Linked DNA regions of Homo sapiens: regions 2, 3, 4, 5, 6 and 7 are each linked to region 1. Evidence: fine-mapped expression QTL. A gene starts in region 1. Each other region holds a variant in brackets. All regions are shown on one strand. Distances are from middle to middle. Region 1 holds the start of NAV3 (neuron navigator 3). Region 2 overlaps NAV3 (neuron navigator 3). Region 3 overlaps NAV3 (neuron navigator 3). Region 4 overlaps NAV3 (neuron navigator 3). Region 5 has its middle 130 kb from the start of LINC02464. Region 6 overlaps NAV3 (neuron navigator 3). Region 7 overlaps NAV3 (neuron navigator 3).

Evidence for each region. PIP is the estimated chance that this variant, and not a neighbour inherited with it, causes the effect.
Region 2: its variant is the best candidate, but not a certain one, in a credible set for the expression of NAV3 in unexposed skin (GTEx, PIP 0.62).
Region 3: its variant is the best candidate, but not a certain one, in a credible set for the expression of NAV3 in testis (GTEx, PIP 0.88).
Region 4: its variant is the best candidate, but not a certain one, in a credible set for the expression of NAV3 in esophagus muscle (GTEx, PIP 0.67).
Region 5: its variant is the best candidate, but not a certain one, in a credible set for the expression of NAV3 in skeletal muscle (GTEx, PIP 0.55).
Region 6: its variant is the best candidate, but not a certain one, in a credible set for the expression of NAV3 in whole blood (TOPMed, PIP 0.85).
Region 7: its variant is the best candidate, but not a certain one, in a credible set for the expression of NAV3 in cerebellum (GTEx, PIP 0.71).

What each region holds. Positions count from the first base shown.
Region 1 is chr12:77,828,425-77,832,864 of GRCh38, forward strand. It overlaps NAV3 (neuron navigator 3), which reads left to right and starts at 2,470. Exons shown (of 40, transcript NM_001024383.2): 1 at 2,470-3,280. The coding sequence starts at 3,038.
Region 2 is chr12:78,076,683-78,081,122 of GRCh38, forward strand. The region is part of intron 12 of NAV3 (neuron navigator 3); the gene reads left to right. Among named protein-coding and RNA genes, the nearest start is that of NAV3, 250 kb to the left of the region's middle. The variant C/T (reference allele first, on the strand shown) is at 2,002.
Region 3 is chr12:77,931,508-77,935,947 of GRCh38, forward strand. The region is part of intron 1 of NAV3 (neuron navigator 3); the gene reads left to right. Among named protein-coding and RNA genes, the nearest start is that of NAV3, 100 kb to the left of the region's middle. The variant G/A (reference allele first, on the strand shown) is at 1,852.
Region 4 is chr12:77,852,525-77,856,964 of GRCh38, forward strand. The region is part of intron 1 of NAV3 (neuron navigator 3); the gene reads left to right. Among named protein-coding and RNA genes, the nearest start is that of NAV3, 24 kb to the left of the region's middle. The variant C/T (reference allele first, on the strand shown) is at 2,183.
Region 5 is chr12:77,445,515-77,449,954 of GRCh38, forward strand. No RefSeq gene overlaps it. Among named protein-coding and RNA genes, the nearest start is that of LINC02464, 130 kb to the left of the region's middle. The variant G/A (reference allele first, on the strand shown) is at 2,008.
Region 6 is chr12:78,032,108-78,036,547 of GRCh38, forward strand. The region is part of intron 9 of NAV3 (neuron navigator 3); the gene reads left to right. Among named protein-coding and RNA genes, the nearest start is that of NAV3, 200 kb to the left of the region's middle. The variant C/T (reference allele first, on the strand shown) is at 2,361.
Region 7 is chr12:78,162,091-78,166,530 of GRCh38, forward strand. The region is part of intron 23 of NAV3 (neuron navigator 3); the gene reads left to right. Among named protein-coding and RNA genes, the nearest start is that of LINC02424, 200 kb to the right of the region's middle. The variant G/A (reference allele first, on the strand shown) is at 2,389.

The DNA.
Region 1 (4,440 bases):
GGTTCGAGATGAATACAATCATCTATATTTTAGTAAGCACTCAGGTCACCATCACATCTGGTTTGTTGAACTCAGTTTGTAAAACCTCATTTTGAACTTCATCTACAAGGTATCAGTGACCGTAAGCTAATTTTTTACTTTCTCGGTGCCTTTGTCTCCTAGGTCTCAAAACGGTGTGGTTCTTTTAAGATAAATTGAGATGACAACTCCTGGCACAAAGCACATTTTTTATAGTAAGTTAGTTTGGTTTTGTTGCTTTTGGTGGTAGATATTACTGCAAAAAATTAGTTGACAGTGGCTACTAATACCATCTTATATTTCAGTCAGAGTGAAAGATATTGCCTAATATGCAAAAGGTATTTCAAAGTGAAAAGACATCTTATTGAATGTGAATCCTTTTTTTTCAATCTAATTGTTCCAGGAATTACGATACATTCTCCTCCAATGCATGTTTCCAAAATACCAATGAGCTCATTTGTAATTGGCAAACAGGAATTTTGTACTAGTATAATGCAGAAGTTGTGTAGCTTTATATACAATTTATTCTAGGCAAAGGGAAGCAGAATAGTCAGCGTAGAATTATAACCTTGGGTGGGCAAAGAAGCCCTCAGTTTGAATGTTGTATAGTCAGCAGGAGCCCTTTTGGCTCAGTTTTAAGAAAACTAAAAACAAAAACAAAAATGAATGCCTGCATCTGGGGCTTCCTCTTCAAAGGGGCATGCCCCTGGCCTTGTGCAGCTCTTAAATATTTGCAGTTGCCCTGACCCTGTACCCATTTCAATGGCAAGCCTACTGGCTTGGAGTTTGCCTTCCAACCGGATTTCTTCCACCAATTCTGGTTAAAGTGTTGCCAGCATTTATACCCAATTATTTTTTTATGTAATTCTGAGTCACTTCCTTGAGTGGTCCAAATTATTTTCTGAGGTGCCAATATTATTTTTGCTAGCAATATACTCCCAAAGTTGCATATGTTTTGAGTGAACTTCCTAGAATCAATTTTTCCCACAAGTTCTATTATTTAGGTGCTGTTTTGTTTTGCATTGTGAGGATTACAAGTTGCATATGTCTTATTATGAACTAAACCTCATTTTACGAACATGAACCTCTCCAACTCTGTATTACCTTATAGTTTCTGAAAGTTATAATGTGTTGAATGGTTTGCAAATTGCAAAATAACTTACTTCCTCAGAGAGATTATTTCATTTCTTTGATACCACTAGTGTTGTATTTGTTTTGTATTACCCCGCTGTGTAAAGCCCACTTGGGTTACTATTTTTAAAGCCTGCAAGACTTCTAACTTACATTTCCTGTCTTCTATGCTGCATCAGCAGAACATATACTTTTAGTTATTGGCTCTTTCATCTATAAATTACTGCTTCTTAGATAAAAGTACGTAGTGATTTAAAGACCTGGAAACAGTAGGCCAAAGATGACCATTTCTTCACTAAAGAAAGACATTTTCTATAAAAAATGGTTACGATTTAATAATTTCCATGATTCATTGTGTCTATACTAAGTGTCCACCACTCATTTTTCTAAGACCTTTGGTTGCATTATTACTAATTTTTATATTTGGTGTATATAATTGCTCTCTGTATCCATTTTCTGAGTGCAATCAGTTTCAGAACAATAATGCATGGTACATTAGATGTTTTCTTAAAAGTTTACCCCTTGTTTATTTAAAGTTCCTGACATGCTTTAACCAGAAATAGAACATGCTATGATTATATTAAAATAATTCTATGGATGGAAGCATCATCATTCATTCTCACTGAGTATCTGTTTGGACAGTTTTTAGAAGCTTGGGATTTTAAGTTGGACGTCATAAGCTTGAATAACAGTGTTATTTTCAACCATTTTAAAAGACAGGTTTACAAACTAAAATCATACATTCTTTCCCCCTTTCTAGCTTCATCATTTTAGTCAATTTTTTCAGTGTCTCCAAGTCATAGCTGTTCTTTCTATAAAGTGAAGAAAATAAATATGCCTATACTTTGAGTCATTCCAATGATTAAATGTGATAATGCATAAAATGCTTAGCTCCATAACTGCTTTGTAATACATTCCACATAAGTGTTAGCTTTGAATGTTTTTATAATCATGACTTATTAAATTTGGGAACAATGATTACTACATATTTAGTGCCCTGCTTCCTGTGTTTACTCTATTTTCATAACCTAGGCAGCTATGGTCCGATGAATGATTTAACTGCTTTAGCTAGTTGCACTATTGCATGATTTTAGCCTGATTTCATGGGATGCAACAGAATGAACATCGTGGCTCATGGCTGTCAGTAGTGAAAAATAGCTGGAAATCAGACAAACAACTTTATTGCTGAGATTGTTTCCGGGCTAAAAGTTCTTCCAACAGCTGTTTGTTTTGGCCATTAACATGTCCATTCTTTTTATTTTTTCTGAGCTGGGGGAAATACAATTTTCTTTAAAAAGAGAATGCAGGCTGGCTATTTCTGAAATCAGGAAGAACCCCTGTCCTTCCACTGTTGTGGTCTTTTGGCTGCTCTGACAGTTGGACTGAAGGGCTTTTCCTTTTGATTTTTTCCTCTTTTTCAATCTCAAAGTTCAGACTCAGACTGCTTTAGTGAGAAAAAAAAATAAGCAAAACTAAGAGCTCTTTAATCCTAAGAAGGAGCTTTGTAGCAGTTACCTTGAAGAAGAGTTTACTCCCCAAAGGAGTATTTAGTATTACTTAGATACTGAGTCACTGAACAGAGAGAGAGAGAGAGACAGAGAGAGAGAGAGAGAGAGAGAGACAGAGAGAGAGAGAGAGAGAGAGAAAGAGAGAGAGAGAGAGAATGAGAATGAATATGAATCCCAGCCAGCAAGAAAGAAAAGATACTTAACTAAAGATGCAGGGAAGTTTTGCCTCTTCCTGAAAATTATATTATTAGCTTTTTAAAAATCAGGATGACTGCTAGTTTTGTTTAAAGTATTTGTTCTGGAAATACTAAAGTTGGAGTCTACCAGACTGAGGTTAGAAGCATTTTCTTTGGCAGCAAGAAGATAATTTTATAGAAGCCATGCCTGTTCTTGGGGTTGCCTCAAAACTGAGGCAGCCAGCTGTTGGGTCAAAGCCTGTGCATACTGCTCTTCCGATACCAAATCTTGGCACTACTGGGTCACAGCACTGTTCTTCAAGACCTTTGGAACTTACTGAAACAGAGAGCTCCATGCTTTCTTGTCAGCTTGCGTTAAAATCAACCTGTGAATTTGGAGAGAAGAAACCCCTCCAAGGAAAAGCCAAGGAGAAAGAAGACAGCAAGGTTAGTTGCTGAAGTTACCTGCAGACTTGTGTAGCTAAAATGCACATTTCTCTTTAAGTGCACTATAAAACATGTTATGAAATGGGGAGTAGTAGAGGAATACCAGTGTAAGGATGTAAGTAGTTATAATGGCTGAAAAGCTGAATATTTAGCTTATGTAAACACTGTATTCTTAGTTTAGAGTTGTAAAAGTCATGATCAAAATTTTCTGAATATGCATCTATTGTAATCATTTAATACTACTTATTGATGAATGCCTAGTTAGTTCTAGATATTGCTCTATTACTAATAATCATAATCAGTCACAAATGTGAGAAAAAGAGAACCTATTGTCATCCATACTGCAATGTATGAAAATAGGTACTTTCAAAAAGACATTTATTTGTAATAATTCATATAGACACCATCACTTTTCTCTAAATGTCATTTGCATTTCAAAGAATTTCTGCTTGAAAATTTGTATCATAGGCTGCTTAATTCATTGCAGTATGAAGGAAAATGACATACTATTTTCCTTGATACTGCACATTTATATGGACTTTCCCTTGTAAACTGAAACGCTACTCTTTTACTTATTACTGACATCTTTTTCAGTCATTTAATTTATGATATTTTGTGAGTAGTTGCTCATAGCCCTTGGTTTCTAAAGCATACTACAACCGTTTTCTCCAGTCACGCATGCTAGAATGGCACTGAAGCTGCTGAACTTCATGCGGATTCATTTGTACCTTGATAAGCGTCACTTTTGTTTTGTGCATTTTTACTTTTATTGGTACATATTAGGTGTATATATTTATGGGTACATATTGGTGTATATATTTATGTGGTTCATGAGAGATTCTGATACAGGCATACAATGTGTAATAATCATATCAGGGTAAATGGAGTATCTGTTGCCTTAAGCATTTATCATGTCTTTGTGTTGCAAACATTATATATTCTTTTAGTTATTTAAAAATATAGAATAAGTTATTGTTGACAGTAATCATCCTATAGTGCTATCAAATACTAGATCTTATTCATTCTATCTAAATGTATTTTTGTACTCATTAACGATCCACACTCCCCCTACCCCTCGCCACTACCCTTTCCAGCCTCTGGTAACCATCATTCTACTCAGCATCACTTTTTAATGCAGCATTAACTATGATGTCAAGCTT
Region 2 (4,440 bases), 250 kb after region 1:
GCTTTTTAAAAAAAACACAGGTATGAAAAGCATGTAGCTAGGGTATTATCTCAAAAGAAAAAATACATTTGAAATCATTGTGGAGGAAAATTTATTGAGTATGAAATTCTATAGAAGCCATATAATCCAAAATATTGCTACCTGCTTTTACTTGCTTAAGAAATTCAAGGCTTTCTAGCTTGTGGTAATTTTAAAATATTTTGACCAAGATATTAATATGTTTAAATAGCAAAGTATAATACTAGGATATCTGATGGTAATTTACTTTAGAAATTCTGCTTAAAGTATCTTTGGATTGTGTCTAAAACATCAAAGAATTCATCTCTGAGTTTAGAAAATGTGTTGAGTGAAATGATAGACTTCTAATATTTGTTGTATATGTAATTTATATAAATATTTTCTGAAAAAATACAATTATATGTATGGACCTTTCCATATTTCTTAAGTTTCTTCTTAAGTTTTTTTCATATTCTTCATTTGTTTTTACTCCTTGATACTAATTCTGTAAAATAATGAAAATTTTTAGAAAGCTCTGTTGTACAAATAAAAATATAAAAGCTCAATAAAGTTAACCCAAATTTCAATAACTAAATTAAGTTGGATTTCAACTCAGCTTGATTCTTATCTGGGCCAGAGTTTACAATTTTTGTTCATAAAGGACCAGACAATAAATATTTTAGGCTTTACGGGCCAAGAGGCAAAATCAAGATATTGTGTATCTGTTTACACAATGAGAGAAAACAAATTGTCCCCAATTTTTCTAACTATTTAGAAATGTAAAAGACATTCTTAAATAACAGTGTACAATTTGGGTTTTTTCCATGGCCATAGTTTGCTGACTCCCATGGTGGTGAAACAAATCCAAATCTTAACTGTTAGACTCTTAAGTTTAACATTGATTCTCTGTATTAGTTTGCTAAGACTTTATAACAAAGTACTACAGATTGGGTGGCTTAAGCAACAGAAACATATTGTCCAGGCACAGTGGCTCATGCCTATAATCCCAGCACTTTGGGAGACTGAGGCGGGTAGATCACCTGAGGTCAGGAGTTCGAGACCAGCCTGACCAACATGGTGAAACCCCGTCTCTACTAAAAATACAAAAATTATCTGGGCATGGCAGTGGGTGCCTGTAATCCCAGCTACCTGGAGGGCTGAGGCAGGAGAATCGCTTGAACCTGGGAGGCGGAGGTTGCAGTGAGCCAAGATCACGCCTTTGCACTCCCAGCCTGGGCAACAAGAGCAAAACTCTGCCTCAAAAACAAAAAACAGAAACATATTGTCTCACCCTTCTGGAGGCTAGACATTAGAAATCCATGCTTTGGTAGGCTTGTTTTCTCTTGAGGGCCACGAGTGAGGGATCCTGTCTCCTTGTCTTGTAGTTAGCTTCTGTGTCTTCACATTGTCTTCCCTGTGTGTGTCTGTGTCCAAATTTCTCCTTTCAGTAAGAACATCCATCATGTTAGATTAGGTCCCACTCCAATGAGCTCTCTTTAACTTGATTACCTCTGTAAAGACCCTATCTCCAAGTAAGGTCATATTCTGAGGTTCTAGGGTTAGGGTTTCAACAACCAAATTTTTGGAAGGTACACAATTCAACCGATAACATTCTCATTCTCTTTGCTCTACATCAGACCTAATTTCTATGAACCCAAGTAACAAGTATGAGAGTTGCATTTCACTCTTTCCACTCTTTTTTTTTTTTTTTTTTTTTTTTTTTTTTTTTTTTTTGAGACGGAGTCTCGCTCTGTCGCCCAGGCTGGAGTGCAGTGGCGGGATCTCGGCTCACCGCAAGCTCCGCCTCCCGGGTTCACGCCATTCTCCTGCCTCAGCCTCCCAAGTAGCTGGGACTACAGGCGCCCGCCACTACGCCCGGCTAATTTTTTGTATTTTTAGTAGAGACGGGGTTTCACCGTTTTAGCCGGGATGGTCTCGATCTCCTGACCTCGTGATCCGCCCACCTCGGCCTCCCAAAGTGCTGGGATTATAGGCGTGAGCCAC[C/T]GCGCCCGGCCTCTTTCCACTCTTTTAAATTTAAAGCCATAGCTTCTCTCTCAATAACCTCACAGCACAATAATAGACAACTAGAACTGCATTGAGACAATTCTCCATGGAAAGATGACTCTCTGAGATTTGGTTTCCCCTCCCTTCAAAACACCCAGAAGATAATGTGGCATAGTGAAATCATCTGAATACTTAACCACTTTAGCAAGAGAGAAGTATTTAGAAAAATCAAATTATAAAGACAAATATTAATTTTGATCATATTTCTAACAAATAATGTTGCTGGTTTTTAACCACTTGACTTGGTGATTCCTTAAATAGATCAAAAGGCTTATACACAAATAACATCCTCCTATGTCCTAGCAGCACTCAGAATTGACTCCAAAATAAAACTGTTATTTGAAAACCCCAGCTGTGAGTATGCCTTGGTGTTAGAAAGTGTCACACCTTTTGTAGCTAGAACTGTCACAGCATGAAGAACTGATGTGCCATTGAGTCCTACATCCTGCGCAAGGATGGGCTAGCACAAGAATTCTAAAGATGTCTTTTTTTTATTTTTAAATGAAAAGACAGTGTGAGATTTTTAGATATAAAGACTCAGATTTATAGCTTAGCTAGCTGGAAATGCCTTGGAAAAAAATAGAATCATAAATTTTGAAAGAAATTTGCTTTAAAACAAAGCATGATTATTTCTTATCTCTGAAGTTTTATTAGCCTGCTATTGATGCGTTCATTATTTTCATGACTGATAACATTTTTATCAGCAAAAAGGCTGTATTTTTTGATATTTTTTATTTGGTATTTGATATCTGTTTCACAATCCCAAACCTACTTTAAAAGGACGATTATAAAGATTACATAAGATAGCACACCATAAGTATATTATACAGTGTCAGTCACAATCCTTTTTCTTCTCTTCATAGAAAAAATTATTAGCAGACATCAGAAATCAGTTAATTTTTGAAAACTCTCACTTCTTTACAAATAAGACAATAAACAGGAGGCTTTTTTATTTAGAGAATGGCTGGATACCCCAGTGCCCTGGTTTTATATCTGGAATAGAACCATCTCCAAAGAGAACACTGTACAAATGATTAGGCCTACCCTCTAAGTGGAGTTTCTACTGATTCTATGCATGATAAATAATGGTTACTCTCTTGCCTACGTAGGACAGTAAAGAAAGTGAAGGTCACTTGTACGTGTTTAAATAATAATATGACAGATATGTGTTAAGCCTTGTGTTCATAATCGAAGATATTGTATCCTGCATTGTGTAAATGAGGCCACTGAAGCATGGAGAGTTAATATATTAACCACAAAAATGTATTTTGTCTATATTTTAATATGTTATGAACCTGTTGCCCTCTTCCCCACCCATTTTGTTGACAATAAAATCTTAAATTATAGCCATCTAGACATTCTTAAACCTGGCATTTTAGACAAAAATAATTTGGGGACAGGGTATAGTTTACACTGTTTCTAACTTAGAAGTTTTATCTCTTGCATAGTAGGTACTCATGTGGTCTGATTGAGACACAAAGTATAAAAGTACCAAGGGCCAGTAGAAAGTGGAAAATGAAAGTATCATGTCCCCTTAGCAAGAGAACAGAAAGACTAGGTCAAGCATTCTCTCGTTTTCCAAAGATCATTAAAAACCCTTTTGTAATATTAAGTAGTCTATGTGATACACAGAGTGAGCCTTAAATTAACTTTTAAAAGTTTTCTATCTTGAAATATACTTTTAAAATAAATTTTCACCTGCATAAATGTTCTCTTTGGATTAAAGACTTAATCACCACAATTTCCAGAGATACTTTTCCTACCCTTTTGATTCCATTGTTGTTGTAATGACAGAAACTCATTAACACAGTGGGTATCAGTATTGATTATGACTTTTAGACTTTACTTTTTCCCATTATAGTTTAATTTCTGTCTAAAATAGATCATAATTCTCAATCTGCTGCTGCTTTGGAGTTTTTCTAAGATATTGGACCATTTACTCATGGTGAGATAATAGTGTTCAAATTGACACTGGCAGTCACGAGGTACCCTGGACTCTTTTCTCCTATTTGATGCTCTGTTTTGTGGAATAGAATAGTATGTGTAGCCTTCCATGCAGAATTAATCATGAAAATGAACTGCATACTGCAGGTACAATCAGCACCATCTAATTACCTCAAACTTGCTTGTCTTATGACTTTATTTAGCTGAGCACATGCATTTGATAATAACAAGTAGGATAATTCAAAATCCTGTCAACCACAGGCAATTTAGTTATCATAAGTGAAGTCCGGTGTGTTTTAGAGATCGTATCCATTTGACAAGCTAGCAGGTATGAACAGGAAAGGCATAAGACAGGAAATAGAGAAGTCAGAATTTGATTTATTAATTTTTTAGGAGAAAAGCCTATCAGGCTATGTAAGTCTTTTGAGTCTTTCT
Region 3 (4,440 bases), 100 kb after region 1:
CAGAGAATTTTATCAAACCCCTGGTAAACCTCAATTCTCTGTATCAAGCATGAGACAATAAAAATCTACTTGGAAGCGGCCAGGTGCGGTGGCTCACTCCTGTAATCCCAGCACTTTGGGAGGCCCAGGCAGGCGGATCACAAGGTCAGGAGATCGAGACCATCCTGGCTAACACGATGAAACCCTATCTCTACTAAAAAATACAAAAAATTAGCCGGGTGTGGTGGCGGGTGTCTGTAGTCCCAGCTACTCGGGAGGCTGAGGCCGGAGAATGGCGTGAACCCGGGAGGAGGAGCTTGCAGTGAGCCGAGATCGCGCCACTGCACGCCAGCCTGGGTGACAGAGCAAGACTCCATCTCAAATAATAATAATAATCTACTTGGAAGCTATTTGTGCGTGTGTGTTTGTGTGTGTGTGTGTGTGTGATGCACATAGTTGTTAATGTCTTTTGTGATTCATTATAGGCCATCCTATAATGATGGCCAGCTCATTGATTCACTGGGTACCATGAGTGTCAGTATCTGTTGATCTTAGGGATGATCATTGTTGTCAAAGACAGATTTTTTAAATCTGACTGGAGTGAGGGTGGAGGATATGAAATCCTATATTCCTGAAGGAGAGGGTGCCAGGGAAGCAAAAATCAGTTGCTGGGGTCTCAACATAAGTATATATAATTTTACTTAATCCTTTTGTTTTCATTTCCATGCCTTTACCTTTTGTCTTCCTGATAACCCTAAGTCCGGATTTTCCCTAAAGTATGTCCTGGCTTTTGATGGGAGAATGGATAGGCCGGCAACAATATAACTCTTGAATTTGGTTCATCCTACCTTCCATTTGATCTGATGCTCATACTTTCTGAGCCATTCTGGGGGTCTGTGGGAAAATCTGTTTGCATTACTCTGTCTCCCTCTGCAGGCTTCTGTGGGTCCATCTTCCTTTACTACTCTGCTACATGTGTATCATTCTTTCATCTGCCTTCCACACTCATATATTGTGTTCATGGAAGATAGAATTTGAGTTAAGATTTTTTGTTCTTGCTGTCCTGTGGGCAATTTCTTAGTAAATACAGGGCAGAAAACTATTTTATCATCTAGAATACAGAAGTCTTGTAAGTAATCTGTCTTTACTTTCTTGACTCTAAACTTGACTCTAAACTCCATAGCTGCACTCAAGTTCAAGTTTAGTAACAGGAGCATGGCTGTCATTTTCATGTTCCCTACATGAAAATAAACTTTCACCTAAAAATCTTAATAAAGCCTTCTTAGCTTCAGATATTATTGCTTTTTGCCCAACCCTTACCTGATTCCTGGCCTCTTCCTTTAGTGTTTCCATGTGCCCCTTCCCCATGTTCTGGCCAAATAGAACTATACAAAATTCTCTGAAATCATGAGGCTATTTCATAGCTCTGTTCCTCTGTAGATGTAATTATTTATGCATATTCTGCATGGAATATGCTTTCCCCTTCCTTCTGATTGTCAAATCTCATCCTTTTATGTGTCATTTCTCAATCATCATTCTTCTGTAACCTTCATAGTTATGTTTTACTCTTTTTGCTATTTTTATTTAAACTAATTTTCTCTTAAAAATGGAATAAATTGACTTCATAAGGGACATTTTTTTTGAAGTTAAGTGGGAGCTATTTTGTGATTTTTACTAACACGTTAAATTACTTGATCAGATTTGCATTTTAAAGCAATCACTATCTGTAGTGTATAGAATAGTATAATGCTTAGCCTGCCTGCACTCAGAAAGTGTTTATATGACTGTTAGAGTGATTGGGTGAGAGATGATGAGAAGCGACCCAGGGCAATGATAGTAGCAATGGAGGAGTGGAAGGGTGAAGAGATGTTA[G/A]GGAGATAAAATTAACAGCACTAGGTCAGAGATTGAAAGAGAATGACAGAAAAAAAGTAAAAGGAAATTATCAGACTTCAATTTATGTTTACTTTATAATTTACTTGCCTTCATAGACCATCCACCGATCTTATGGGGTAGTCAACTCATTAATATTCACTTTTAAATCAAACTCCAAAGTTGAGATTTTTGAAAAACTTCATACAGTGTGAGCTTTCATTTTAATGTGAATATTGAGGTGAACTATCTGTACAGACTGAGGTGAACTAGCTAGATGGTGAATGTATTACATATATTGTGACAATATGATGTTACCCAAAACTTTTAATGGATTCGTTTCATAATTATACCACATGAGCTATTGAGATTTCTAGAAGGCCTACAAGAGTCATGAGATTGGACTCATTCACAGATCTTTTGGTCATATCAGTTCTGTAACAACAACTGCAGATCCAGTCTGTGATCAACTTTTCAAAACATCTAAAAATAGTATGTATTGTGTCTTAATCCCACACTGTGATTTTGCAACCTTCTTTGTCCAATGTTGCCTACCATTTTTGAATTTTTGAGTCTTAAAACTGTGGTGTACAAAATTATATCTTTGAAAAAATATATAACTTCACCTTTTAAGCCTCTTTCTCTGTATAGTAGGAGAAAATGTATTTATCTCAGTTCAAAGTAACATAATCACTTTCAGTTTAAAACTCAGTGTTTGAGGGCCAGGCTCATTCAGTTCCAGATTCTTCCTTTTCTTTCTGCAGTGATGGGCTGGGGAGGGTTGTTGATTGTGGTTCCTTATTATCATGGCACCAGGGGTGACACAGCTTGTTCATTGCCATTGCTACCCACCAAGGCTGCTGTCTGATGAGTGCCCGAAGGTAGGATTCCTGTCATACATAACTTGACTTATTTTAACCTATCCTCACATCTTCTGTGCCCTTTTTGCTTTTCTGTGCCAGCTCTATACATCCTTCCTGTCCTGATTTCAAGTGCTCTCTAGGATCACTTCTTTCTTCCAGAAAATTCCATATGGCTCTTGGGAAATTATAAAAAAAAAGTATGCTTTCCTATACTGTTGTGGTCAATGTTGTCCTTTGTGATTCCATTCTCAGGTCCAAATGCTACTTTGAAACTCAGTCCAGAGAGGTAACCTCTTAAATCTGTTCTAGGGCTCCTTTTCCTTCCAATTCTCTTCCCTATACTAGTTTTTCTTTTTGTGGGAAAAACACTTACTTCACTGATCACCTTTCCCTAAGGTATGATTTCTGGTTGCACTTTATATGCTTAGTCTTTTGCTGCTTTTTAAGATGTAGAAGTCCAGTTATTATCATAGAAACCCTTGGTCTTCAACACAATTCCTGTTATGTCTTAGAAGAACCCATTTAACTTTACAAAGCCAGTAATTTGAACATACCAGGGAGCAGTGCTTATAGAAATGTAATGCTACTGCTTGAATGTTGAAGGAAAACAATAATGTTTTAAATAAGTACAGGGTTAAAATTAGCTCAGCTAATATTTTTAAATCCTCTGATTATATTCATAATATCTTCTAATCAGGTTACAGATTAGTGTGTTTTTATTCAAACAGACTTTTAACTTCAATGAAGAGGCAGTCTTTCCCCTATCACTTCTCCCTACTTCTTCGATTATTTAGGATTCCTTAAAAATAAGTTACTTTATCCCATTGAAACACATATACCTCTATGTAGTGTATGGAATAACAAAAATAGTTATAATCATTTTTATATAACTGAGTGGTAGGTTACTTATAAAATACTAACCAAATGCTAAAATAAATAATTTTTAAAAATGTAGGAGCAGCTTGCTGTGACAGACAAAGATAGTATGTAATACTGTCAGTAGTAAAAAAAAATCACAAATGTTTAGGACTTCAAGGAAAATCAGAGTAGATCTTTTTCTGATGTTGTTTCTTCATAGCAGGTTCACTTCTCAAAAGAAATATGGTATCATATATGTTGCCTTCTATTTCATCCTCATATTTATAGTGAATAATGAGCACTGTAAGAGAAATATCATAGAGGCAAATGATGAAGCTACAAGGTCATTACAACTTCCTGCAATTTTCCTTAATTAGTTAGGTAAACTATATTTGGATGAATATATATGATTTAAGAGTTTAACAATAATAATGGTTTACAATATTTCTCATGGTTAATGGAAATGTATTTCATATTAAAGCAGTGAGCTACTAATAACAATATTTAACATAGTGAAAGTCCATATTCCAAAGTAGAAATTCATTAAATCCTCACAATAATTCCATTGGTTGAGGTATTAGTCTGTTTTCACACTGCTATAAAGACATCCCTGAGACTGGGTAACTTGTAAGGAAAAGAGGTTTAATAGACTCACAGTTCTGCAGGCTCCAAAGGTAGCATGGCTGGGGAGGCCTCAGGAAACTTACAGTCATGGTGGAAGGTGAAGGAGAAGCAAGATCATCTTACGTGGTGGGAGCCAGAGGAAGAGAGAGAGCCAAGGGGGATGTGCTACGCACTTTCAGAAAAACCAGATCTCATGAGAACTCTATCAGAACAGCAAGGGAAGAAGTCTGCCCCCATGATTCAGTCA
Region 4 (4,440 bases), 24 kb after region 1:
CGAGACTCCCTCTCATAAATAAATAAATAAATAAATAAATAAATAAATAAATAATGTTATACTTATGAAGAATAACAAAACATATGCATTATAAGTTTGTGAAAACGGCCTAGTAAAATATTTTAAAATTGTTATTGATGTATAATAGACACATACCAATAAAGTACACATACCATAAATATGTTTCATGAATTTGTAGAAAATGAACACATTTTTCCAGCTAGTAGAGAATAGGAAACAGACATTTACAATTGCTGTCTGACATTTACAATTACAATTTAGATTCCTTATTCTCGTAGATTTATATTATTCCAGTACGTGAATTCTCCCACAATTTATTTTTTATTCTGCTTTTAATGTGGGCATTTGGATAGTTTATAGCTTGGGGATTTATGAATAATGACACTGTGAACATTCCTGCACATGTCTTTTTGCGAACATAAGAAGCGATGTCTGTTGGGTAGATCCCTAGGGGTGAAACTTCTAGGTAATAGGCAAGACATATACTCAGCTTTCATGAGTACGATTACTGCCACCATTTCTAAAGTGGTTGTACCAGATTGCTTTCTTACTAACCTGAATGCATCTTCAGTTGCTCCACATCTCTGCCCTCTGGTATCACCATTGTTATGAGGCCACAGGTCCTTAGCATTTTCTATGTAGTGTGATTTTGTTGTAGTTTTAAGCTTCCATACACTTATGACTGATGGAATTGATTATCTTTTCTGTATTTAACTGGCCATTTGGATATCTTCCGTTGTGTTCATTCAGGTTTTCTGCTTACTTTTCTAATAAGTAGTGAGCCTCTTTCCTTAATGGTAGATAGAAATTTTTTAAACATTTTCTGCACATGAGTCCTTTGTCAAATATGCATATTGTGAATATCTTTTCCCATTCCATGGGTTGTGTTTTCCCTCCCTTAATAATGTCTTTTGGGAAACATAAATTCTTAATTTTAGTGTAATCCAATGTATCAATTTTTATCTTGTTTAAGAAACTCTACTGTTCAAAAATTTCAAAACTATTCTATGCAAAAAGCACTATTTGAGATGAAAATTGAATATGTGCAATACTTCTGATAGCAACATTTCAACATACACAATAAAACAGGCAGAATTGGTCATTGTACAGAATAGAGATAATCTTATCTCTATTTAAAAAAAAGCCACATTTTGTGTCAGATGATTTCTGAATCCAGTAAAACTCTTAACGTATGCATACCTTTTATAGTCAGTTTGGCAGACTTCTAAAAATCAGGAGTTAATATTTCATAAGGTATAAATTTTTCTTATACTGAGGTGAAAATTCTCTCTCTGTTAGTTCCACTTATTGGTTCTAGTTTACTAATATAGTCTTTTGTTCACTTATCTATTCAACACATATTATATGAATCCTATGACTTCTAAGTCTTGGAAAGGTTTCAGGGATAATTGAGGAACTCAGAATTGACTTTGGGAAGCAGTCTGTTAGCAGGTGTACATTTTTAGAGCTCATAGTCATACCAGTTGGTAGGAAAATGAAAAAGCCTCACCTTTTTGTCCTCTTCTTTGAGTAAAGGCTTTCAACTATTCCACACACAATATGAATTTCAGATGCCTTATCATCATGGTTATTCGTTTTCAGACATAGCCTAATTAGTTACTGATATATTTAACATTAAGATTAAAAATTAATAGAAAGCAATAGCCTACATGATGTTTCATCAGCAATATGGCTCCATTAGTTTCTAGAACTGGAAGGCAGCCTGTTTCTGTTGATTCAGCTTAGAGCAGCTCTATCATATTTTTGGCAGTACCTCATACCATGTTCACATACTAAACTTGAATTTGAATAAATCTGCATAAATCCCCTAAATCGTACTTTTATGATTATTATCAAACAAGTGTCCTCCAACTTTTTCAGTTAATTTACGAATGTACAAAACTTGCTGATCATTAGAAACCTTGTTTTCCGAGAACATTTTATGATATAGGACTATGTTTTCTTTTTGATGTAAAAGTAACTGAAGAAGGTAGGAAATAAAGCTATGTAATCATGATAAGCCAATTGTGTGTATGTGTGTATGTGTGTGTGTGTGTGTGTTTGTGTGTGTGTGTTAAAATTATTGGAAATAAATGTGCCAGAATATTTGTGGCACTTATCCTAGAAAACAACATATAATTTCAAATCATTTATGCTAATT[C/T]CAAGTTCATTTCCTTATCAATCATGCCGCCTCTTTCTACTATCTTTTCTAAATCTACAAATGAGATCATATACCGTCTAAATATTTTAAGTGTAAGCATTTATTACTTAGAAATGCTGACTAACATCTGGCCGGGTGCAGTGGCTCACGCCTGTAATCCCAGCACTTTGGGAGGCCGAGGTGGGTGGAGGCAGGCAGATCACGAGGTCAGGAGATTGAGACCATCCTGGCTAACACGATGAAACCCCGTCTCTACTAAAAATACAAAAAATTAGCTGGGCGTGGTGGCGGGCGCCTGTAGTCCCAGCTACTCGGGAGGCTGAGGCAGGAGAATGGCCTGAACCCAGGAGGCGGAGCTTGCAGTGAGCTGAGATCGCGCCACTGCCCTCCAGCCTGGGTGACAGAGCGAGACTCCATCTCCAAAAATAAAAATAAAAAATATATGCTGACTAACATCCTTTTGCATGTGTCCTAAAGAATTCAGGTGGAGAATGATCTTTTAATCAACATTTAAAAATTATAATTGTCTAAATATTTATACAGTTATCCAACTGTTCGGTATAGCCTAAATTTCAATATATTTTTGCCAAAAATAGTAAAATAATCATCAAATATTGTCTGAAATCAAAATTCTAAGCTTTTGTTATTTTTTTGGCTTCCCACTTAACATTGTTACAAAATGAAAGAAGGTCAGTTTGACAGAATCTATTCTTAGTGAATCTGTGATATCCCTAAAGGGTATCACAATATTTTTCTATTTTCTCAAAAGGTCTCTGTTCAATGACATTGTGATATATTATAAGAATTCTATAATACTTTGCAGCTCCTCCCATCAAGGTGGGGTACAGAAGTGTATTCACATCCATCTTGAATCTGGACTGGCCTTGGAATTTACTTTGAGCAATAGAATGCAGTTGAAGAGACACTGTGAGAATTCTGAGCCCAGACTAAAGAGGCCCAGAGCTTTCCCACTTGCTGCTCGTGGGCACTCTATATAAATAAGCATGAGCTAGTCCACTGGATATTGAGTGACAATCGATGCAGGGCCCTAGCCGACAGCTAGCTAATGCCAGATGTATGAGTGAGTCGTTGACTGCCAGCACATTGCAGATACGTGAGTGAGCCCAGCCAAACTCAGAAGAAGGAACTCCTAGCTGACCTTAGCCCAAATTGTCACCCTACAGTATCATGAGCTAAAAAGTCATTGTTGTTTTAATTCCTTAAATTTTTGGTGGTGTATTTTATATAGCAAGTGCTAACTGATACAGATTCGTACTGCATTTTCATAATAAATGCTATAATGTTTATTTCCATGTAAGTCTGTTATTAGAATTTACTGTTTATATAGGCTGTAGAGTATTATTATCTTCACTTCAATATAATTTTTAAGAAACGTTCTTTATTGTACATATGTTGTGGAGAGAAGATGAGCACTATATAACTGGTAATTCTTTTTACCAATGGATATATATAAGAGCTTTCATTTCCTGCTGTTTGTTCTGTTTCAGGAGAAGTAGGACTTGCAGCTCTTGGCTGTCTATGAAGTAGAGTATTATTATTATTTGTTCTTGTGACATGTAGCTATCTAAGTCTTAGAATAAATAATGCTTTATGAAATGATAATGACAAGGTGAAAATTAGGAGGAAATACTGATAACTTGCTCACAAATTGTGCACATTGGCTGTTGGGCCCCAAGGAGTGTTTTCTTACACAGGAGGTCCACCCAAGATTTGTTTCCTATGTTCTAAGGTGTAAAAACATACATGAGAAATATGTATTTATTTGAATAAGACTATATTTGGTTTAACTCAATCTTTGAATTTAAAATCTTACCTCCAGAAATAATTTTAAAATATTATATTTTAGAAAATTTTCCAGTGGAAACAATGCCACAGAGTTTTGAAATGATGTAATTAAAAAGTAAAATAATAAAATAACATTCTTAATATTAAATTATTTTACAATGGTTGTGAATGCATAACATTAAAATGTTAACTTGAAAGGAGGAATAATACAGTTAATTATCCACATTTCTAAACAATGTTTGAGTATTATGAAATGGCTTTTTAAAAACATTTTTACCCAGACATTTAGAATTATGCACTTTAAAATTTGAATGGTTTCAATTCAAAATAAGCAGTTATACTTTCTGAAAATAAGCTTTCCAGATCTTGAGTGGATCTAAATTTTTAGACTTTGGACAACGGAAGGCTAGGAATGATAAAATGCTAATTTTTTAGATTTCATTTAGCAGTAT
Region 5 (4,440 bases), 380 kb before region 1:
TGACAATGTCCCCATGAAGTACCAGATTTCCTGGAAATTCTTTTTATTCCACTTGTATTGTTTTAGTTTTTCATTAGCGTAGTTCATTGAGTCCTTGAAATATCAATCATTTTCCCACTTGGCTGTAAGTTGCTAAAAGTCGGACACTCTATTTATTCTCTGGATCCAAATTGGCTAGCATAGTTCCTGGGATGTACTGAATAGGAATCCCATGCACTGTTGTCATGTGAGCTCTGTAGAGAAACTTTCAAGTTTCAATCAAGCTCTGCCTCTTCTTGCTGTATAACCTTGGAACTTTATTGCATTTCTCCTAGCTTCAGCTTCCTCATAGAGATTATAAAGCTCAAGGTCTTATGAGAAATGTATGAGATAATGTTTAGGAGCACTTAGGAAGTGCCTGGCATATATTTAGTGCTCAATGAATGTTAAATTTTATCTTTAGTGTCCTAATAGCACATTCTCTCCTCATTTTGGTTAGAGATTGAGAATTGTGAAAACCTGTTGGAACATTAATAGCTACGTGTAATAGAAAGTCAGAAGACTCACCTGGATGTTTTTCCTTCCAGTGGTGACTCAGGAATCTAGAATTCTATCTTGTGGATCCATGTCCTAGAGTCTCCTTGGAATTCGTAACTGTATCCTGGGGGTCAAGTATAGGAGTAATATAATTCCCATGTAATTCCCAGCTCCCCATGTTCTATTAGCCAACATTCAGTCACATGACCCCATATAGAAACAGGTACAAGAATACTAAATAACTAGTCTTATGTGCCCAGAAAATAGTATGAGGAATTGTTTCTATTATAATAGATTTCATCAATAATTACTAAATGTCATCTAAGATTCACTTATAATAATATGTTCACTGCACTTAATATAGTTTTATTAATAATGTTTTTTTTATTACCTGTGTTTCACAAATTGACTGGGATGGATATATCCTGCCTATGGGTAGATTCAATCTGACAGCTGAAGAACAGCGGGAAAGATGACAAAAGCTAAAGACCTGCTTCCAAACTCACACCATGGAATTGCTGAAGCTGTTTTTGTCTTGGAAACCATAAGAACTGCAGATATATTTTATTATGAACTCTGTTGATTTTCTTTAAACTCTCCTTTGATTTAATTGTACGTTTAAATAGATCCCATTTTAGGCATTAATAAGCTTCAGAAGCTTCATATTTGACTTTGAGATTCTAGTTAACCTAAAGCTTTTTCTAGTAAGAACATACATAGTACATCTTATTTGTTAGCTAAACGATAAGCTTTTAGCAGTTATTTCTCAAGAGACTACTGCTCCACAGGTCAGAATATATCTATATTCCACCAAGTAGAGGTACTTAATTCTTACAGTAAGGCAGTTGACTGTGTTGGTTTGACATCCGCTACGTCTTTGACATTATTTTTAGTCATTCTTTATTCTTTATATTCTTAATTCATTTGATGAACAAGGTTTTGGATTCCCTAAGCTAAGGGGAAAAAAATGCCTGAGTGTCCTCCTTATTGCTTTTAAACCTCAGGGATTATCAGATGCTTTACAACTCTGCTAAGCTCAAGGCAATTTAATAACTTGCATACTCCAAATTATAAGAACATATAAAACAACTAGGACAGTAACAGCTTAAGTAGGACATTTCCTTTCTAAATACTCAGAAGTAGCCACATTAGACTGAGTTAAAATAGAACTAAGACTCTACTCTATGCCTTACCCTTGTAATTGCTTAAGACTCTGTGAAACTATTTGTAGTGATTGGCTCATTTACCTTTGAGTCTTATCAAGTGTTTTCTGGCATATCATCAAAAGTATATATGATATGTGTGTATTGGAGGAGGGGAGGCAGAACAAGATGACCAGATAGAAGCCACCACTGATCATCTTTCCTGCAGGAACACCAGACTTAACAACTGTCTACACAAAAAAGCATGAGAACCAAGAATCAGGTGAGGGATCAGAGTACCTGGTTTTAACTTCGTATTACTGAAAGCGACACTGAAGAGGGTAGAAAA[G/A]ACAGTATTGAATTGTTGACACCACCCCTCCCTCATCCTCCAGCAGTGGCTGCATGGAGCAGAGAAACTGCACTTGAGGGAGGGAGAACAAAGCAATTGCAGGACTTTGCATTGGAACTTAGTGCTGTAACAATGGAAAGCAGCACTGAGCAGAACTCAGCCAGAGACCATGGAAGAGCGTTTATACTAGCCCTAGCTAGCGGGACAACATTTATCTCAGCGGTTGGAACCTGAGTTCCAGCAAGCCCTACCACTGTGGGCTAAAGGGCTCTGGGGTCCAAAATAAACTTGAAAAGCAGTCTAGGCCACAAAGACTGCAATTCCTGGGCAAGTCCTAGAGCCATGCTGGGCTTGGAACCTGTGGATTTGGGGGCCATGTGACCTAATGAGGCACCAGCCAGGGTGGCTTGCATCACCTTTTCCCCAACCTCAGGCAGCACAGCTCACAGCTTCAGGAGGGAATCCTTTCTTCTGTTTGAAGAGAAGAGAGGGAAAAGTAAAGAGAACTTTGGCTTGCAACTTGTGTACCTGCTTAGCCACAGTATATAGGGTATCAGGCAGAGTCCTTGGGCCCCTATTCCAAGCCCTAGCTCCTAAACATCTCTAGACATACCCTGGGCTAGAAGGTAACCTGCTGCCTTGAAGAGAAGGACCCAGTCCTAGCAGGATTCATCACCTGCTGACTAAAGAGCCCTTGGTCCCTGAATAATCAGCAGTGGTATCCAGGCTGCATTCATCATGAGCCTTGAGTGAGACTCTGAGATGTGTTAGCTTCAAGTGTGACCAAGCATATTTCTAGCTGTGGTAGCTATGGGGAGGGAATCCTTCCACTTGGAAAAAAGGAGAGGGAAGAGTAAAGGGGACTTTGTCTTGCAGCTTAAGTACCAGCTTGGCCACAGTGGGGTAGACCATTAAGTGGGCTCTTGGATGGCATTTCTGGACCTGCCCTGGGCCAGAGGGGAGCCCACTGCCCTGAAGGGAGTGTTCCAGGCCTGACAACATTCATCACAAGCTGACTGAGGAGCTCTTGGGCATTGAATGAACATCAGTGATAGCCAGGAAGTGCTCACTGTGGGCCTGGGGTGGTGGTGGCCATGGGAAGACACTTCTCTGCTTGTGGAAAAGAGAGAGAAGAGTGGGAAGTACTTTGTCTTGTGACTTGGGTGTGAGCTTAGCTGCAGTAGAATACAGCACTAGGTAGATTCCTAAAGTTTCCGACTCTAGGCCTGGGCTTCCAGATGAAATTGTTGCCCTGAAAGGAAGAAGGCAAGCCAGACTGGCTTCACCACTTGCTGATTGTAGAGCCCTACGGCCCTGAGTGAACAAAGATGGTAGTCAGGCAGTGGTTACCACGGGCCTGAATGAGACCCAGTGCTGTGCTGACTTCAGGTATGACCCAGTACAGTTCCAGTGGTGGTGACCACAGGGGTGCTGTGTCACCCTGCCCCAGCTCCAGGCAGCTCAGCACAGAGAGGGTGAAACTCTATTTGTTTGGGAGAAACTAAGGGAAGAGAGTAAGAGTCTGTCTGGTAATTCAGATAATTTTTCCAGATTTTATCCAAGTCCACCAAGGCACTACTTCTATGAGTCTGCAAGAGCCACAGTGTTACTGGACTTGGGGTGACAGCTCATGCAAATGTGCGGCAGTGATCAAAAACTTACATCAAATACCCAAGTCCCTTTGAATACTTGGAAAGCCTTCCTAAGAAGGACAGGTACAAATAAAACCAAACTGCAAAGACTATAATAAATACCTAACTCTTCAATGCCCAGACACTAACAAATATCCTCAAGCATGAAAGCCACCCAGGAAAACATGACCTCACCAGTTGAACTAAATAAGGCACCAGTGACCAGTCCTGGAGAGACAGAGATATGTGATCTTTTAGACAGAGAATTCAAAATATCTGTTTTGAGGAAGGAAACCAATAAAATTCAAGGTAATACAGAGAAGGAATTCAGAATCCTATCAGGTAAATTTAACAAAGAGATTGAAATGACTAAAAAATAATCAGGCATAAATTCTGGAGTTGAAAAATGCAATTGACGTGCTGAAGAATGCACCAGAATCTCATAATAGAAGAGTTGACCCAGCAGAAGAAAGAATTAGTAGCTTGAAAACAGGCTTTTTGAAAAGACAGTCAGAGGTGACAAAATAAAAAAAATGAAAAAGAGTGAAGCATGCCTGAAAGATCTAGAAAACAGCTTCAAAAAGGCAAATCTAAGAATCATTGGCCTTAAAGGGGAGGTAGTGAGAGAGCAGGGGTAGAAAGTTTATTTAAAGTGATAGTAACAGAGAACCTCTCAAACCTAGAATAAGATATCAGTATTCAAGTATAAGGAAGTCATAGAACACCAAGCAGATTTAACCCAAATAAAACTACCTCAAGACATTTAATTATCCTTGATATTTGGGAGTTTGATTATGAAAAC
Region 6 (4,440 bases), 200 kb after region 1:
TTTGAGTTATGTAACCCAGAAAAAAGTCTTTTTGTGCTTACACAAATGTGAAAATCATCCCTATTGCATGACCCACAGGATGTATGACATGTAAAGATTTGCCATACTATTAAAGAGCAAACTTGAGTGGTTCACATTGCAATGCAGATGTGTTAGAGGGATTTGCTAAGTTAGTTGGAGAGCTTAGCTGTTTAAATTTTCACCAATGCAGTAACTCACTTGACATTATAAAAACATTGTCTTTGCCATTAAATGGTAATGAAAGTTTAAAAAGGTAATAAATTATGGTTTGAAGATAAATATCAGAAATGCATGACACTCAATAAAGTAGAATACTGGATAAATGACTTTTTCAATTTGAATATTCTTCATAAGTCTTCAGTGCACCTCTCCAAAATTTTTAAGTACGTCACTTAAATTTGCTTTTGCTTATTATGTTCTTTGTGAAGAAACCTAGTTGTATTTACCCAATCTGATGATGGTAGCTCCAATAATTATTATAGTCAGGTGAAATGTATTATATAATTTCTGCCATTGAAGAAGTAGCTTATTGCTTCCTGCCTTTCCTCTAAGATTCATATCATGACCTCAATATTACAGTGCTGGCTGAATTAATGGTACAGATTTTACTGCTTTGGCTTGAGTTTTATTCTCACATTCATTGACAGAAAGAATTTGTCCTCAGAGGCCATCCCTTTCATCATCTTCCAAGTGATTCTGCCAAATGTAAAGCGAGCCCAAATTTTCATCCCACTGGTACTCAAGGAAGTTTTTCAATTTTTCTTCTATAGGTTCACACTTGCCCTTTTTTTTTGCATAAGACTATCCACCAACATGTAACACATTTGTTTAATTCACTTCTTAACCTTTATCTGGAATTTATATTCAACTGAAAAATGTTCATAGGTGCTGGACTGGCTCAATATCAATAAAGCTGGCATGTCATTTGTAAAAAAGTAATATTAAAATTATTGGTTGAATTCAGGAAACCATTTTAGAAATAGAAGAATTTAGGTTAACCAGAAGGATAAGCGAATGGTTACATGTGCTTTTACTGACTACCAGACTTTGTATTAAAAGTGGGAAATATCTGACATTTACAATCTCTGTAAATGATCACTGAAATTGCCCTTTTTTTTTTGAATGTTTATAAAGATCAAGAAGATCAAGCTCAGATAATTCAAATCAGTTTAGGTCTTTTACTTAAATAGCCACATTATAATTATGTTTACTAAAGAGCTGAAAAGCATTCCTTTCCAGCACATTATAATAGCTATAACTTATTTTAGGTCTTGGCGTAATTAGAATGATTCACATTTTTCCTACTGACTGGGTGTATTTGTCTCCTTTGCACTGCACCTTCCTCCTCTTCCTTGTATAACATACATCTATATGTGTGAATACAAACAAATATAAAAACATTCATATATGAATGTACCCCCAAAGCAAGCAGGATGGCGCTCTCCAGAGAAGGAATAAGTGGGTTCCCCACTGTCGCTCAGAGTAAATGTGGACTGATGTAGTTCTGGGACAAACCTACTGTAACCACAAGTTAATAACAATATCTTTGAACAAAGAGACAGAAACCCCCTTTTGATAAGCCTTCTCTACAATCCCCTCCTTGCTGGCTCCATTGGACTGAGCCCATCCTTTCCAGGGTTCACCCCTCCAGAAGGATTAAATTTCCTGTCTCATTGAATCAGGAAGAACCATGTGATTTAATCTGACAAATGAAATACAAGTGGAAAAATGACATGGGATGTTCCTGAGCAGAAACTTAAGAGCCATTGCTTGGATCTCTCACCTCTCTTTTCCTTTGGTCATAAAATCAACATGTCCCAGACTAGGATTGCTCTTGTAGCATGGTTGTTAGAATAAAGAATACCTGAGAGAGAGCTGTAACAAACAGAGTGGACATTAATGTCAGCAAAATACATCTTTGTATTGAATGCCACTGAAGTTTCTAAACCATTTGTAAATGCAATATAACAATCTAATTCAGGATTTCCCAACTTCGGCACTGTGGACGTTGTGAAATGCAGAATTCTTTTTTGCATGGGGGTGGTTTATCATTGTAGGATGTTTAGCAACATCACTGGCCACTTCCCCTTAGATGTCACCACCACACCCACAGTTGTGATAACGAAAAATGTTTCCAGATATTGCCAAATGTCCCTTGGGGGAAAAACCATCCCCAGTTGAAAACCACTAATCTCAGCATAGTAGTTCTCAAAGGGGGTTTTCAGAGCCAGCAGTATCTGGAAATATGTTAGAAATACAAAGTCCCAGGACCCTCCGAGTCCAACTGAATGAGCAGTTATGTGGCTGGGGCACAGCGAACTGTGTTTTGATAAGCCCTC[C/T]GAGTGGTTCTGAACATATGAAGCTTGAGAACCACAGGTTTAAACTGATTGGTATATGTATAAGCAGTCTTGAATAAGGAAAGGGCATAAATATTGCTTTTATTTACAGATGAATAAGGTCAACTCATTTGATATATAAAGCATTAGAATTGCATTTTTTGTGAATCTGTAAGGCTTTAGGGTATATTAGCATATATACTAGTGTAACAAATGTTAAATACATTGAAATTTCATAATTTGAACAAATTTCACTATGGTCTCAGGACTTGGAAATTCACTGTGTCACAATAACTCAAAATGAAAGAAAAAAGATTTTCTACTTAGGAATTCTAAGGGGAGTGTCATTTTGGTCTTCCAAAAAATACTTTACAAAATTGTGTTTTTAGGAGCATAACTGTCAGTTTCAATTATCTGATATTTGTACTGTAATTTTATTTAGCACATTTTATATAAACGAGTAGTATTTAAAAAGTATAGAATTGAGAATGAGTATCAATAATTCACAGATTTCTTTATTGCAGAATTTTGTCACAAATAATTGCTGTTCTTTCCAGCTAATTTCCTTTTCATATCTATAAAATGGGTCTAAGTCTGATCTACCTTGAAAGGTGGGGCATAAGGAATAATTAACTTTACAAAGTAAGTGGTTATTATGTGTAAAGTTATAGGCAATGCATATTATAATGCTAATATATATAGTTATGAGATTGGGTATTTCCTCTATTGAGATTGGCAATAGGAGGTAGAAAATCACAATTAATTTTGCCACATTAGCTCTGAAAATGATGAAGATAATATCTCTGCATATTTCTCCATTTTCCCTCATTTGATAAAGGAGAAATCCCTATTTTTCTGTTTGTGAGCAGAAAATCTTCAGAAGTTAAATACTGAAAGGTCGATAGTCTTCTTAACTGTCAATGGTACCCATGATTTCTGCTATACTATATATTTGTTTTTTAAAGTTGTCCTAAAATCAGAATTTTGTGGTGGTATAGTGTACGTACCAGTACAAGGTAAATACAAGAAAATTATCTTTAGGTTTTCTGTTTTTATGAAAACATTAAGAAATAAGAGCTGATTATGCTGTGATAGGCTTATGAAATAGACCTGGAAAAATGCAATATCAAAAGACACAATGTGCATTTTGTGTTATCTGTAACATTATTATGTTCCACACACTTGACCATAAACTTTCAATTTTAAGCTTTGAGTCAAAATATCAAGGGAAAACCCTTTTGAGTTATTTTTTTCTTTCTATTTCCTTTTTGTTTTTACAAAAAGGCTGTAAGAAATCTTTATCATCACATTAGGATTTTAGGATTCAAAATAAGAAGGCTTTGACTTTGTTCTTTAAAAGATTAGGGAAGTCTTTCCCTTTAAAGCATTATCTCCTAGCGGGTGGAGAGTGTCATGCTTCATTTTTTAGGTCCTTTACACTCTTGAATTTGATTTGTGCTTTTACAGCACAAATCCCAACATTCAGAAGGGAGATCTGCCTGCTTCAGCTGCCTGCAGCTACAGAGAATTAGTCTGTCATTCTCGGCATCGGGGAGTGTGTGTTGTGTATGTGAGGGTGTGAGTGTGTGTCCGTGTTTGAGATTGGGTGGCTGAGAGTCATTTAAATGTGCATAAGGTTAATAGTGGAAGATCTCGTACAGGCTTGGCTCAGAAACCTGTGGCATTCTACGCTGGACAGCCGTTCCCGTGCCTCTGTTTTAATTTGGCAGGATGTTTGCTGCCATGGCAGCCAGCAGCATCCACTGCAGCAGCAAGGAAGAGCCATAGATCTGAGAATGCAGGTGGAATACTAAAATGTAAGAGGCTTGTGCAGGGCTGGGCGTCAGTGCTTAATTCCTGCTCTTCCTGGGCTCCTATGAGCAGGCTGTACTTGCTGCACTGTGTCAGCTCGTTAGAGTAAAGGGTTACAGACCTAGGTCAGTTAAGGGCTGGTGAAAGGCAGGGGAAAGAAAAAAAAAAGCAAAAAGCAAGAGACCTCAGCTCGTGCTTCACCTCCTGGCGTTTCGGGACACAGAAGCAACAGAGGGAAATGTGGACCCATCCTCCTGCTGAGACATGTGAT
Region 7 (4,440 bases), 330 kb after region 1:
AATTGGGGTCATGGAATAACAAAAGACAAAATCACTGTTCAAATAGACATTTCTCTAAAAGCTAAGGGCATAACATTTAATCATATTTCACTAAAGGCATTTCTTCAGGGAGCTGAGATAAAAGGGTATATTGCTCTCTGGTGATTCAACAATCCTGAGAAAAGGCTTGTGAAGTATAGAGCAGAGATTCTTAAACTCCCTTCCCCAAGTTATAAGTTTCATTTGTCTATTTAGTCATTCATCAAGTTTATATTGAATTTGTGCTCTTCTAATGACAAAACAGTACAGACAATATAGATATAGAATGATAGATATAGGTCTATATCTATAGACATACCTATCTACTAGAACTCTAAAAGCATATTATACATGTATGTAATATTCCTCATGGAGTTTATATTTCTCATATATATCTCATATATATGTATCTCTTTATCATGGAGTTTATATTTTAGGAGGTCACAGATGATAATAAAAATATAATTAAAACAGGCCAGGTGTGGTGACTCACACGTGTAATCCTAGCACTTTGAAAGGCCAAGGCAGGTGGACTCCCTGAGATCAGGAGTTCAAGACCAGCCTGGCCAACATAGTGAAACCCCATCTCTACTAGAAACAAAAATTAGCCAGGCCTGGTGGTGGGCACCTGTAGTCCCAGCTATTCAGGAGGTTGAGGCAGGAGAATCACTTGAACCTGGGAGGTGGAGGTTGCAGTAAGCCGAGGTCATGCCACTGCACTCCAGCCTGGGCAACAGAGCAAGACTCTGTCTCAAAAAAAAATATATATATATAATATATATAATATATATATAAATATATATATTATATAATATATATATAAATTACATATTTATAAATATGTAATTTATATATATAATATATAATTAAAACATATAGGATTTCAGGTGATGATAAGCACTACTGAAAAAAGTAAAGCTGAGAATGAGGATACTGAGAAGCTGGTTTGGAAGCTAAAACACAAAGTAACAAAGGCCAAGGTGGTTACATGTTCTTGATTACATACTTTAAAAATGGATAAACTAAATTAAGACTCAGATTCTAGTCTTTGGGCTTCACAGTGTGATTTTCAGCAATCACATGGCATTAATAGCCTGAAACTACATCAAAATTGTCATTTGATTTATAGACCAAAATAACTCCCTTGAATAGAGAGGGATTCACTCCTAACACTTTTCCTATTTCCAGATGCCAAATAACACGGAATCTCTTGCCAAATTTGTGTGGCAGAACACTGGTTTTATATACTTATAGCCTGGTAAGAAAGAAAAGACATGTATGAATAACTTAGAAGGCAGAAAATTATCATGCTATTAGACTCAGTACAATGTCATGTGCATTCTCAAAGGAAACATCTGCAGAGGCAGGAGAATTGCTTGAACCCTGGAGGTGAAGGTTGCACTGAGCTGAGATCATGCCACTGCACTCCAGCCTGGGTGACAGAGAGAGACTGCATCTCAAAAAAATAAAAATTACAAAAATAAAAAATAAAAAATAGTGATCAATCTGGCAGCATTTTCTGAAAGTTAAGCAGTATTCCCAATAGCTGCTAAAAGAAGACATGTTATATAATACTAAGTCTGTAAGTAGGTAAAAATTAAGAGAATTGTTAATGTGCTTGCTGGGGAGTGAAATTATCTCTAGGCATTACCCTATACCTAACCTAGGACTCAGTAGACTATGATATTGGCGTAGTTTGACCAAGAATTTTATCCTGATTTCAGATCGTTTTCTCTTCACCAGCACTTCTTCACCAGGATTATATGAAAAAAATTAAACCTGATGCCCTGAGGCATCCATTATATGTGCTGAAATAACTTCTTTTCTCACCATCTAGAATGGTACTAGCTATGTACCACTCTTGTCAGAATCAAGGAAATTGCTACTCAAATCATTGTGCAGCTTAATTTTCTCACAGAAGGCCAGTTGAGAAAGGCTCAACTTCTAGGAATCCAGCAAACTATATTTTTTATAAGTAACATTTTTACAGAACTACTTCTAAATCCTTGTGTTCAAATTTACTAAAGCTATATTCACAGCTAAATATTTCAGAATTTAAAATTTAAAAGACTTTCAAATTAGTTCCCTGTAGCTGTCATGCCAAGGCAATTAGAACATATGTTAAGGTATGAGGGGTTTTTCTTGTTAGAAGGTCAGAGCAGGGCAGAGAAGTAGCCCCTTGTATGAGTGATGAAGCTCAGATATTGACTCCTATGCTAACCATAAAGCCTAGTAGTTTGCTCATTTGTTACCTCTCTGAAACATTTTTTTGGGTGACTACAAAACAGGAATTGAAACCTTCAAAATAAGGGAATTTGAAACCAAATCTTTGAAAATAGATAATGCTGCAACTAAAAATTTAGTTGAATA[G/A]GATTTTTACATTAACTCTCCCTAATTTACGTTATGATATTTGCCATCTAGAAGTGTTTTTAAAAAATATATTGCTGGAGTCAGATGATGCATCCATTAATCTTTGGGGCATAGAATAATGTGAATCTAAAATTTTCAAATTATTTACACTACTGGTATTTGGTCAATGTAATTTATTTGAAACTAGATGCAATAGGGATGGCCAGGTTATTTCAGTAGAACAACTAGCAAGACTTCAGATGCATGGTGGAGTGGGGAAAGGAGGACCTGTTTAAGGAAACTAGAGCTGGGAAGTGTGAGATTAACTTAGTGCCAATGTGAGGACCTAAAAAGCAGATGTGGTGGAAAATTTAAACAGGCTTGCCTAGAAGGTCAAGTTAGTTGATGACACTTGATGAGATTGTCCCAAGCTTTGGGATTCTCAACAAAGTCTTTGTTAGTGAGAAATTTGGAAAGAGATCAGGTATAGTTAAGAAACTGGGTTGGAAAGGCCACCAGGAAAGGCGAATATTCTGACACAAAATTTGATCATTTTATTTGGAAGCATTTCAAGCCTGACCTGAACGAATTGTTTAGCCTCAGATACATGCATAAAACTGTGAAAAGAGACATTGACTCAATTTAGCTTCTTTAACATGAGAAACTTTCGTGGAAAACTAGAACTTTACAAGCTCAGCTGGTGTTGGGGGCATCATTATCTTGAATAGCTCACTGGAGGAAAATGAAATCTTAGTTTGGTTCTCAGGTTTTAAAATATCTATCATTTTTGAAAAGTGTGAAGTAACAAAATATGATCTGATTATCTTATTCCTAAAATCCTTTGCAGAATTATCCCAGCCTCAATCTTCTCTTTAGTATTTAATGAGAATAAGAAACTGGAAATGACTGAATTGGAAGAGTAGACTTTAAATCCATATCTTGATGGCATATACATTTTTCAGTTTTTTTTCTAAATGATTAATGAGGATTCTCAAAACTTGAGTATCTTCTATGTTTCCCTTCAACATAAAGAAATTGTATGAAAATATTTTAAAAATTTCTAATGATTTTATAGTTAGCTATCTTGGGAATTCATTTCTAATCATGTACCTCATCCAAACTCCCCACTATGGACAAAAATAAAATAAAAATTATTAGTTGCATCTGAAGGCCACATTACAATTTCTATGCATTATAGAAACCTGAGAAAATGTATCTTAAAAAATAAATGTGAACAACTAACCATAATTATGAAGAAGAAAAATGAAAACTAGAAATAAACTATTGAAAAATGTCTATGTATCAGTTAAGTTTTTATTTTAAAATTCTTTATGTTTATCTCTATAATACTATTGGGAAAGAGAGAAAGGAAAACCTGACTTTGTTCTCATCCAAAGGAGGTGATTCCACTGATTTAGCCAAAATAAGACTTCCTGGTTATAATAAATAATAAAGTTTTTGATGTTTTTTATATGGTACCCCACTCACTAGGTGATCAGACACCCTCCTGCAAAAAAAAAAAATACGTATGCAATAAAGTTAAAGTTTTATGTTATTCTTTCAAGGGGAGAAACATCTGTTTAACACAGACCAGAATATTTCAACAAAGTCATCCCAATATTTATGGAGATCATAAATCAAGCGAAAAAATATATTCATCAACAACTAAACAAACTACATTAAATAGTCTCAAAGCACATTTTCACTTTTTTTCTGACAGGAAAACAGGTTTCACAAGTGTGGAGACATTTTACCATGGCTTTTAACAGTGAGGAAGGATGTTTAAATAAAGGGAAAAATTATATGGAAAGCTCAGAGAAAAGAGATGGGTGTGGCTTGAGTGACAAGGTGAGAGCAGATCTCATTAACTGAAATGAGAGAGAAGGAAGGAATTTTGCAAATATGGAAAGATAACTAGTGCAAGTTTGAACAGATTATGTCAATCAATGTAGAATTTGGCTATCTTTTTAATCAAAGACTATGGAATATTTTATAGGTGTTTGCTTATACTCAAAGTTTTAAAGAAATAACAGTATGAATTTGGTTGAACTAATTTTTTTCATAGATAGGATT